Linked DNA regions of Homo sapiens. The protein of the gene in region 1 purifies or fractionates together with the protein of each later gene. This does not show direct contact. Each region holds a gene or a part of one and is shown on either strand. Other genes may lie near its edges. The genes, in order: SSX7 and WWC1.

The links.
Region 2: the proteins of SSX7 (region 1) and WWC1 purify together in Homo sapiens (affinity purification with mass spectrometry; one large-scale study listed by BioGRID and IntAct). This does not show direct contact.

The regions. Positions count from the first base shown.
Region 1 is NC_000023.11:52,651,956-52,656,294, reverse strand, and holds the start of SSX7 (protein SSX7), read left to right. Parts: upstream 1-1,394; 5' UTR 1,395-1,533; intron 1,534-2,802; 5' UTR 2,803-2,822; coding exon 2,823-2,891; intron 2,892-3,310; coding exon 3,311-3,425; intron 3,426-3,947; coding exon 3,948-4,043; intron 4,044-4,339.
Region 2 is NC_000005.10:168,427,416-168,431,226, forward strand, and holds part of WWC1 (protein KIBRA), read left to right. Parts: intron 1-617; coding exon 618-726; intron 727-1,291; coding exon 1,292-1,372; intron 1,373-2,721; coding exon 2,722-2,808; intron 2,809-3,811. UniProt on the Homo sapiens protein: Regulator of the Hippo signaling pathway, also known as the Salvador-Warts-Hippo (SWH) pathway.

The DNA.
Region 1 (4,339 bases):
CTTCCTTCCTTCCTTCCTTCCTTCCTTCCTTCCTTCCTTCCTTTCTTTTCTTTCTTCTTTCTTTCAAGTATGGATGTATTTATTTATTTGACAGTCTTGCTCTGTCGCCCAAGCTGGAGTGCAGTGGTGTGATCTCAGCTCAATGCAACGTCCGCTTCCCAGGTTCAAATCATTGAGCGAGCCCAGAAAGTCAAAAGCAGCCGGGGAAAAATAGCAAAAGGCAGGGCGGTGCATGCCTGTAGTCCCAAGGCTGAAGCAGGAGGATCGCTTGAGCCCAGGAGGTAGGGACCAGCCAGGACAACATAGCAAAACTGTCTCTGCTAGAAAAATTAAAAATATTAGTGGTGGTGGGGTGGTGTGAGCCTGTAGTCACCAGGCTGAGGCGGGAGGATTGTTTGAGCCCGGGAGGTAGAGGCCAGCCTGGCCAACATAGCGAAACCCCATTTCTACTAACAACAAGAACAACAAAAAAATTGCGTGGGTGGGATGGCTCACTCCTGTAGTTCCGAGGCCAAGGTGGGAGGACTGCTTGAGCCCAGGAGGTCAATACCAGCCTGGCCAACGTAGCGAAAGCCTGTCTTTCCTATAAGTAAATAAATAAATAAATAAATAAATAAATAAATAAATAAATAAAATAAAATAAAATAAAATAAAATAAAAATGAGCAGGGCAGAATGGCAGTAGTCCTGAGGCCGTGGTGGAAGGATCCCTTGAGCCCAGGAGGTTGAGGCCAGCCTGGCCAACATAGCGAAACCGTCTCTTTTAAAAAATCCAAAAACAAAAAATATTAGTGGGGGTGGGGTGGTTCCCACCTGTAGTCGCGAGACCGAGGCGGGAAGATTGGCCAAGGCGGATGTAACCAATACCACAATCACATCCCATAAGTAAATACATTTTCCTCTCTCCAGGGCTACAGGTAAAGGATGGTAATTGTGCACACCACACTTAGATTCCCTTTCAAAAATGTAATCAGAGGTTGGAGGGCCTTGGACTGTTTTTTCAGTAGCAACAGATATAGAAGCCACTGAAGAATGAAAGCCACTACTAAGTACAGCAAAGCTCTGCAAATGTGCTAGTCTGGAAAACATTGTGTCTTTCAAGTAGAAAAATCACAGATCCGACTATTTTTTTCTTCTCGCTGTTCAGACTAGAAAACAGATTTTTAACCCAAGATCCAGGGACGGTCTTCAGAGAGTTCAAAATCTCCTGACGGCGCCTGAGGACCACCCACTTTGTCGCAGTGGCAACAAAGTGTTGCTGGAGGAGGAGACAATATTGTGCAATGTCACTATGCAGGGATGATGGACCAATCAGGGCAGTTAGTGAACTCCATCTGGCCAATCAGAAGTCAGAACAGTAGCGTGATAAGCGAAGCTGATGTGGCTTCTATCAGTCCAGGCTCCAGGGACAGAACCTTCTCAAAGTGGGGGTGGAGACTCTGATTTTCCCGCCTAAAGCATCCCCTGGGATTGGCTACTTTAAGTTCAGAGTATGCATGCTCTGACTTTCTCTCTCGATTCTTCCATACTCAGAGTACGCACGGTCTGATTTTCTCTTTTGATTCTTCCAAAATCAGAGTAAGCATGCGCTGATTTTCTTTTTCCATTCTTACTACCCCTCCCCTCCTCTGTGGTGCATTTGTTATCTAGTTTTAATAAGGAGTGTATGTGAGGCAGGTCGCCATCTCAAATCCTTCCTGTCAGTTTCTAACTTTTTCAGGTATGGGATTTTTCCTGGGAACTCTAGTAACTTAACAAATTTGGGCCGGGTACGGTGGCTCACGCTTGTAATTCCAGCAGTTTTGGAGGCCACAGCTGGTGGATCACTTGAACCCAGGAGGCGGAGGTTGCAGTGAGCCATGATCACACCACTGCATCCCAGCCTGGGCAGCAGAGAGAGACCATGACTCAAAAAAAAAAAAAAAAAAAAACTCACTCAAATCTTTCCTCCTGGGATCAAGTGATCCTCTCGCGTAGGCCTTGGGACTAGAGGTGCACACCACTCCGCTTCTGTTAATGTGTGTGTGTGTGTGTGTGTTTTGTTGTTGTTGTTGTTTTAGTAGAGATGGTTTCGGTATGTTGGCCAGGCTGGTCTCAAGCTCATGGGCTCAAGCGATCCGCCCTCCTTGGCCTCCCAAAGTGCTGGGATTACAGGCGTGAGCCACTGCGCCTGGCTGATTGCTGCACCTTGAAACTCCCTACATTCTCTCTAAGTGATGGCGGGCTCTTGTAGTCTCAGAAATTCTAGCTCTCTTCTTCTAATAATTTACAAATCACCCAGTAATAGCCTCTAAATCCGTTCATATTAGCCATGCTCATTTCTCTTCAACAGAACAGAACCCCCTATCCCTCTGCCTGATCAGATCCATCACCAGAGAGACGATGTTATCTCTGGGACTCATTTCCCTTCCATTATTTATTGAGTCGGGGTGTCAGCATGCCCCCACTGAATAAAATTACACAGTCACATCTCTGCCTTCCCAACAAGGGTCTGTACATCTTTCAGAGTAAGGCTAGCCCCAGGGAAACTACTAACAACATTAGCCAACCCCCTCCCAAAGACTCAAGGCTGCTTTGCCCACAGGAAGCCTGTCATCCCAAATCAATACTTCTCCCAGAGACCCCTGGTTCCCTATTTTCATCTGACTTCGCCCCATGTCATTACTCAGGGACAGATAAGCCCCAGATGGAGAAATGAAGCACCTGATTCCAGGTGACTGAGGGTGGCCGGCCTTCACTGATTTCTCCCTCCACAAGACCAAAGCTGCTGTGGCTGGAAAGACTCAGGCTATTTCTCTTGCAGGTCAGACTGCTCCTGGTGCCATGAACGGAGACGACGCCTTTGCAAGGAGACCTAGGGCTGGTGCTCAAATACCAGAGAAGATCCAAAAGGTGAGGTGACCTGGAGGGAGCAGAGTAGTGGCCCAGGGGACAGTGTGGGGTGGCCAAGTTTCTGAGGAGGGGAGGACAGAGATACTGGAGACAAGGACCAGGGTCTTGGGGGAGATCTGGATCCTTGAGAGCCTCCCATCCTCGCTCTGTCATCAACTAGCATCCTTGGAGACAAGTCTGTGACCGTGCACTACATTTGGTGAATCTCAGTCCATTCTGGAAAGTGGGAAGAGAGTCAGTCAGCAGCATTAAAGCCCTACTGTGTGGCAGGGGTGAAGCTAGGAAAGGTCGCTCATGTTGTCGGTTAGCCATGGCATCATCCCCACTTCCCAGATCCAGCACACAGGAAGGGGCTCCAGCTGAATGGCAGACATGTCTAGCTGAGTCACTGACAAAATTCCTTTTTTATCTTTTCCTAGTCCTTCGATGATATTGCCAAATACTTCTCTAAGAAAGAGTGGGAAAAGATGAAATCCTTGGAGAAAATCAGCTATGTGTATATGAAGAGAAAGTATGAGGCCATGACTAAACTAGGTAACAGAAAGTTCTAGGTACAGACAAGTCTGGGGACACATGAGCATCCCTATTCCTGCTTTGGCTACTTCTTAGGCTGCAGAAAGTACCCCACATTTTCCTTTTGTGCAGGGAAAAATCGCAAGGCAGCTTCTGGGTGTTCTCCTCTTCTGTATCCTGTCAGGGCTGAGGGCAGGGACTGGCCACAGTGGAGCTCATACCTGGATCCTGCACGTTTCTCTCCCTTAGGCTTCTGTTCTGATGAGTCCAAGTGTCTCTGTGGCATCCCGGCACCCCCACACCGTCCCTACCTTCCTTCTCTCGGCTTGTATCTTTCTTTCTTTCTTTTTTTTTGAGTCTGAGTCTCAGTCTGTCACCTAGGCTAGTTTGCAGTAGTGCAGTCATAGCTCACTGCAGCCTTGAACTCCTGGCCTCAAGCAATACTCCAGCCTCAGCCTCCCAAAGCACTGGTACTACAGATATGAGCCACCGTGACAGGTCAAAGCTTGTCTCTTAAGGAATAAACATTTTGCTTCTTTCTAGGCTTCAAGGCCACCCTCCCACCTTTCATGCATAATACAGGGGCCACAGACCTCCAGGGGAATGATTTTGATAATGACCGTAACCAAGGGAATCAGGGTGAGTAGACGGGAAGGGGCTGGAAAGGGTCTCCTCAAGCCCAGCTGCTTTTCAGCTCAGCTACTTGGGAAAGATCCTCAGGCATTTGTTCCCTCATACACATCAGGGCTGAGTGAAAAAAAAAAAAATTGCATGCAGAAAGTTAACTACAGAGGCCATTCATATAAAATTTTAAAACACGAAAAACAAGAATATATATTTTTATAGATAATAAGTAAATGGTAAATGTATACAAACATGAATGTGAATAAAAAGCCATCAAATTGAGGTGACTGGCTGTAAGTGGAGGAGGGAGG
Region 2 (3,811 bases), on another chromosome or scaffold:
TATCTCAAGGTCATGAAGCAGTGAGTGGTGGAGCCGGATTTGAATCCAGGCAGTTCGACTCAAGAGCCTGGGATGGTAAAACACAAAATCACATGTGACTCCTTCCATCACCCTAAAGCAAACTTTTTTTTAATTTTTTTTTTTTTTTTTTTTTTTTGCTTTAGCATTTAGAGGTGGTTGGAATTTGGTGGAACCGTCTGTCTTCCATAGAGAGTGTATCAAAATTGGGAGTTCAGGCTCCCCGAATCCCAAAGTGTTGGGATTACAGTCGCTGACGCCTGTAATCCCAACACTTTGGAAGGCCAAAGCAGGCAGATCGCCTAAGACCAGGAGTTCAAGACCAGCCTGGGCAATATGGCAAAACCCCATCTCTACAACAAAATAATAATTCAAAAATTAGCTGGGTATGGTGGCACATGCCTGTAGTTCCAGTATTTGGGAGGCGGAGGTGGGAGGATCACCAGAACCCGAAGTGGTCGAGGCTGCAGTGAGCCATGATTGTGCCACTGCACTCCAGCCTGGATGAGTGAGACCCTGCCTCAAAAACAAAACAAAATTGGGAGTCGCAAAGGCAGTTTCCTGGTTCCTGAACCTGCCTTTCCATTTTCCTTCCCTAGCTGTGAATACGGCCCAGGGGTGTGGCCTGAAAGTGGCCTGTGTCTCAGCCGCCGTATCGGACGAGTCAGTGGCTGGAGACAGTGGTGTGTACGAGGCTTCCGTGCAGAGGTAGGTGTCTGGGTGCTGGCTCTCTCTGTGGCCCTGTAAGCCATGAACTCTGAATATCCAGAGCCTAGGCCTGTGGAGAGGCTTAGGTTTTGGCCCCCACAGTGTGTGGGAGGAGCCCCAAGAGGGCATGACCCCACCTTCCTCTTGGCTGCCCAAGGCACAGACAGCATAACTTTTCCTGGGGTTAGAGATGCTTCAGGTTTGGGGGAGTGCTAGTTCTGTGGTAGCTACGAAAAAGGTATATGGCTAAGGAGCAAGCACTAGAGAAAGGGAAGGCCCCTTAAGAGAGGAGTCCAAGCTGGGCATAGTGGTGTGAGTCTGTAATCCCAGCTACTTGGGAGGCTTCAGTGGGAGGATCACTTGATACAAGGAGTTCGAGACCAGCCTGGGCAACATAGTGAGCCCCCATCTCTAAAAAAAATTTTTTTTAATTAAAATTTAAAAAAGGACCTGAAGGGAAGCTGAGCAAACCCCAACTTTCCTTCCTGGGGATGTAACCTCAGCCTCCCAGAATAGTTTGTTCACTGTAGGGAAGCCTAACTCCTCCTCCCCTGTTGCCTTTCAGACTGGGTGCTTCAGAAGCTGCTGCATTTGACAGTGACGAATCGGAAGCAGTGGGTGCGACCCGAATTCAGATTGCCCTGAAGTAAGTGACGAGGACGAGGAGGACAGAAGGAACGGTCTGTGTGGGGTCCCTTCTTCATCCACAGCGTTCCCCAGCATTTACCTTCACAGCCGCCCAGGGTGGAAGGCAGCACCAGCAGGACCTGCTGGCCATTGCAGCTTCTTAACTGAAGGGATGCTGATTCGTTCCTCACCTCCCAGCCATCCGCTTTACAGATAGGAGAAATGAGGTTGGAGAAATGGGGTTTTAAAAGACCTTATGACTTGGCCCAACTCACTGAGCTGGCTGGTAGCAGAGCCAGGACTGGGACTGAGACCTCCTGCCTCTCAGTGTGTTTGTTCATTGTTGCTGTGGCTTTTGTCTTTCCATCCCATCTAGGTTTCATTGATCTGGATGGAAGTTGATCACTGGGGGCTGCAGCCCAGATTGGGTCAATACACACATGGTTGTTCTTTTTGTTTTCTTTTGTTGGGGGATGATATGATCTCAATTTTTTTTTTTTTTTTTTTTTGAGACAGGGTCTCACCTGTCACCCAGGCTGGAGTGCAGTGGTGTGATCTCAGCTCGCTGCAACCTCTGCCTCCTGGGTTCAAGCGATTCTCCTGCCTCAGCCTCCCAAGTAGCTGGGATTACAGGTGTGTGCCACCACGCCCGGCTAACTTTTGTATTTTTAATAGAGATGGAGTTTCACCATGTTGGCCAGGCTAGTCTCAAACTCCTGACCTCAAATGATCTGCCCGCCTTGGCCTCCCAAAGTGCTGAGATTACAGGCATGAGCCACCACACCTGGCCTTCAATATTTTTTAATAGGAATTAGTTGACAACATTTCCATATCATGAAATTTCACCCGCATTTATGGGTTCTTTTTAAAAATTCAGACAACTGGCTGGGTGTGGTGGCTCACACCTTTAATCCTGACACTTTGGGAGGCTGAGGCAGAGGAATCACTTGATTCCAGGAGTTCAGGACCAGCCCAGGCAACATGATGAAACCCCATCTCTACTAAAAATACACAAAATTAGCTGGGTGTGGTGGTGAACACCTGTAGTCCTAGCTACTTGAGAGGCTGAGGTGGGAGGATCACCTGAGCCTGGGAGGTCGAGGCTACCATGAGCCCCGATCATGCCACTGCACTCAACCTGGATGACAGAGTGAGACCCTGTTTCAAAACAAAAAAAAAATTTTCAAACAATTGGCAGCTCTAGCTCTACATCCCTGCATGGCAGCAAAGCACTGGGCCTGTGCTCTAGAGCTCACCATAGGCCCCAGGGCAGCCAACAGCCACGTCCTGTGACTTTTAATGGAGAGAAGGAATGAGAGAGATGAGTGTGTTACTAATAGGTACTTCATATGCCCCTTTTCATTTCAGGTATGATGAGAAGAATAAGCAATTTGCAATATTAATCATCCAGCTGAGTAACCTTTCTGCTCTGTTGCAGCAACAAGACCAGAAAGTGTGAGTATGTAGCTGGACAGGTGTATTTCATACCCTAACCCTCTGGAGTTACCCCTGGGGGTCACTTTTCTGCCCTGTCCTGATCCAGTTATGGGCCTTGTCAAGGCACTGTGGGTTTGTACTGCATATGACTGTGATGCTGAATGTCGGTGCTGTGCATGTGAATACAGGCACAACGGCAAGCACACCAACTGTAAAGACAAGCACTCTCTAGATGACTGTGTGAATTCCTGCCCCATTACGTGCTGAGCACCTGCTGCATGCCAGCTCTAGGAATGGGGTGGTGAGCAGATCCTTCCTGGGCCCTACCCTCCTGGACTTTGAGCCTCATGGAGAAGAATGGTCACAGTCTGTTTTATCTTCTCCTAAGCTCAAGTGTTTCTTGCAGAGAGAGATAGGTCTTCTGTTTCCAAGAGTCAACACCAGTCACTGCTTCTCTTGGAGGGGTGTGACTGCGTGTTACCTTGATGCTGGTAGGATGCAAACACCTGCTCTGTCTGCCTGTGGGCTCCTCCCATGGTAGATGGGTTTATCCTTTATTGCACTCATCTGCCTCCAAGTTTTCTCTGATCGTAAGGCCTGGAGGGTGGCAACAGAAGCTTATGTGTCTGTGGTCTACACTCAGCCAGCCTGTGAGGGTGGCACATGTGGGAAGAAGAAAGGGCAGGAAGGCGGACAAAACGGAAGGAAGACAAGATGGGATGCTTGGGTCAATTTCAGTCTTCTGCCCACACAGACAGTGCCAGGCTGAATAGCCTCCTCCATAGCTCACTGGTACTCATGCAGGGGCATCTGTGGGATAATGCCTAGAAGTGAAGGGTCTGGACCAAAGGACAAATGCATCTGGAATTTTGTTCGATTTGTCAAAGTTCCTTCCAGTGTATAGGGGCCTGATTCCCCAGATTCCTCACTTCTACAAACTCTCATCCACTGTTGTTTGCTTAGGGATTTCAGCAGCTGTTTAGTCCAACATTTTAGCCCCAGACATGGGCTGACCCAAGAT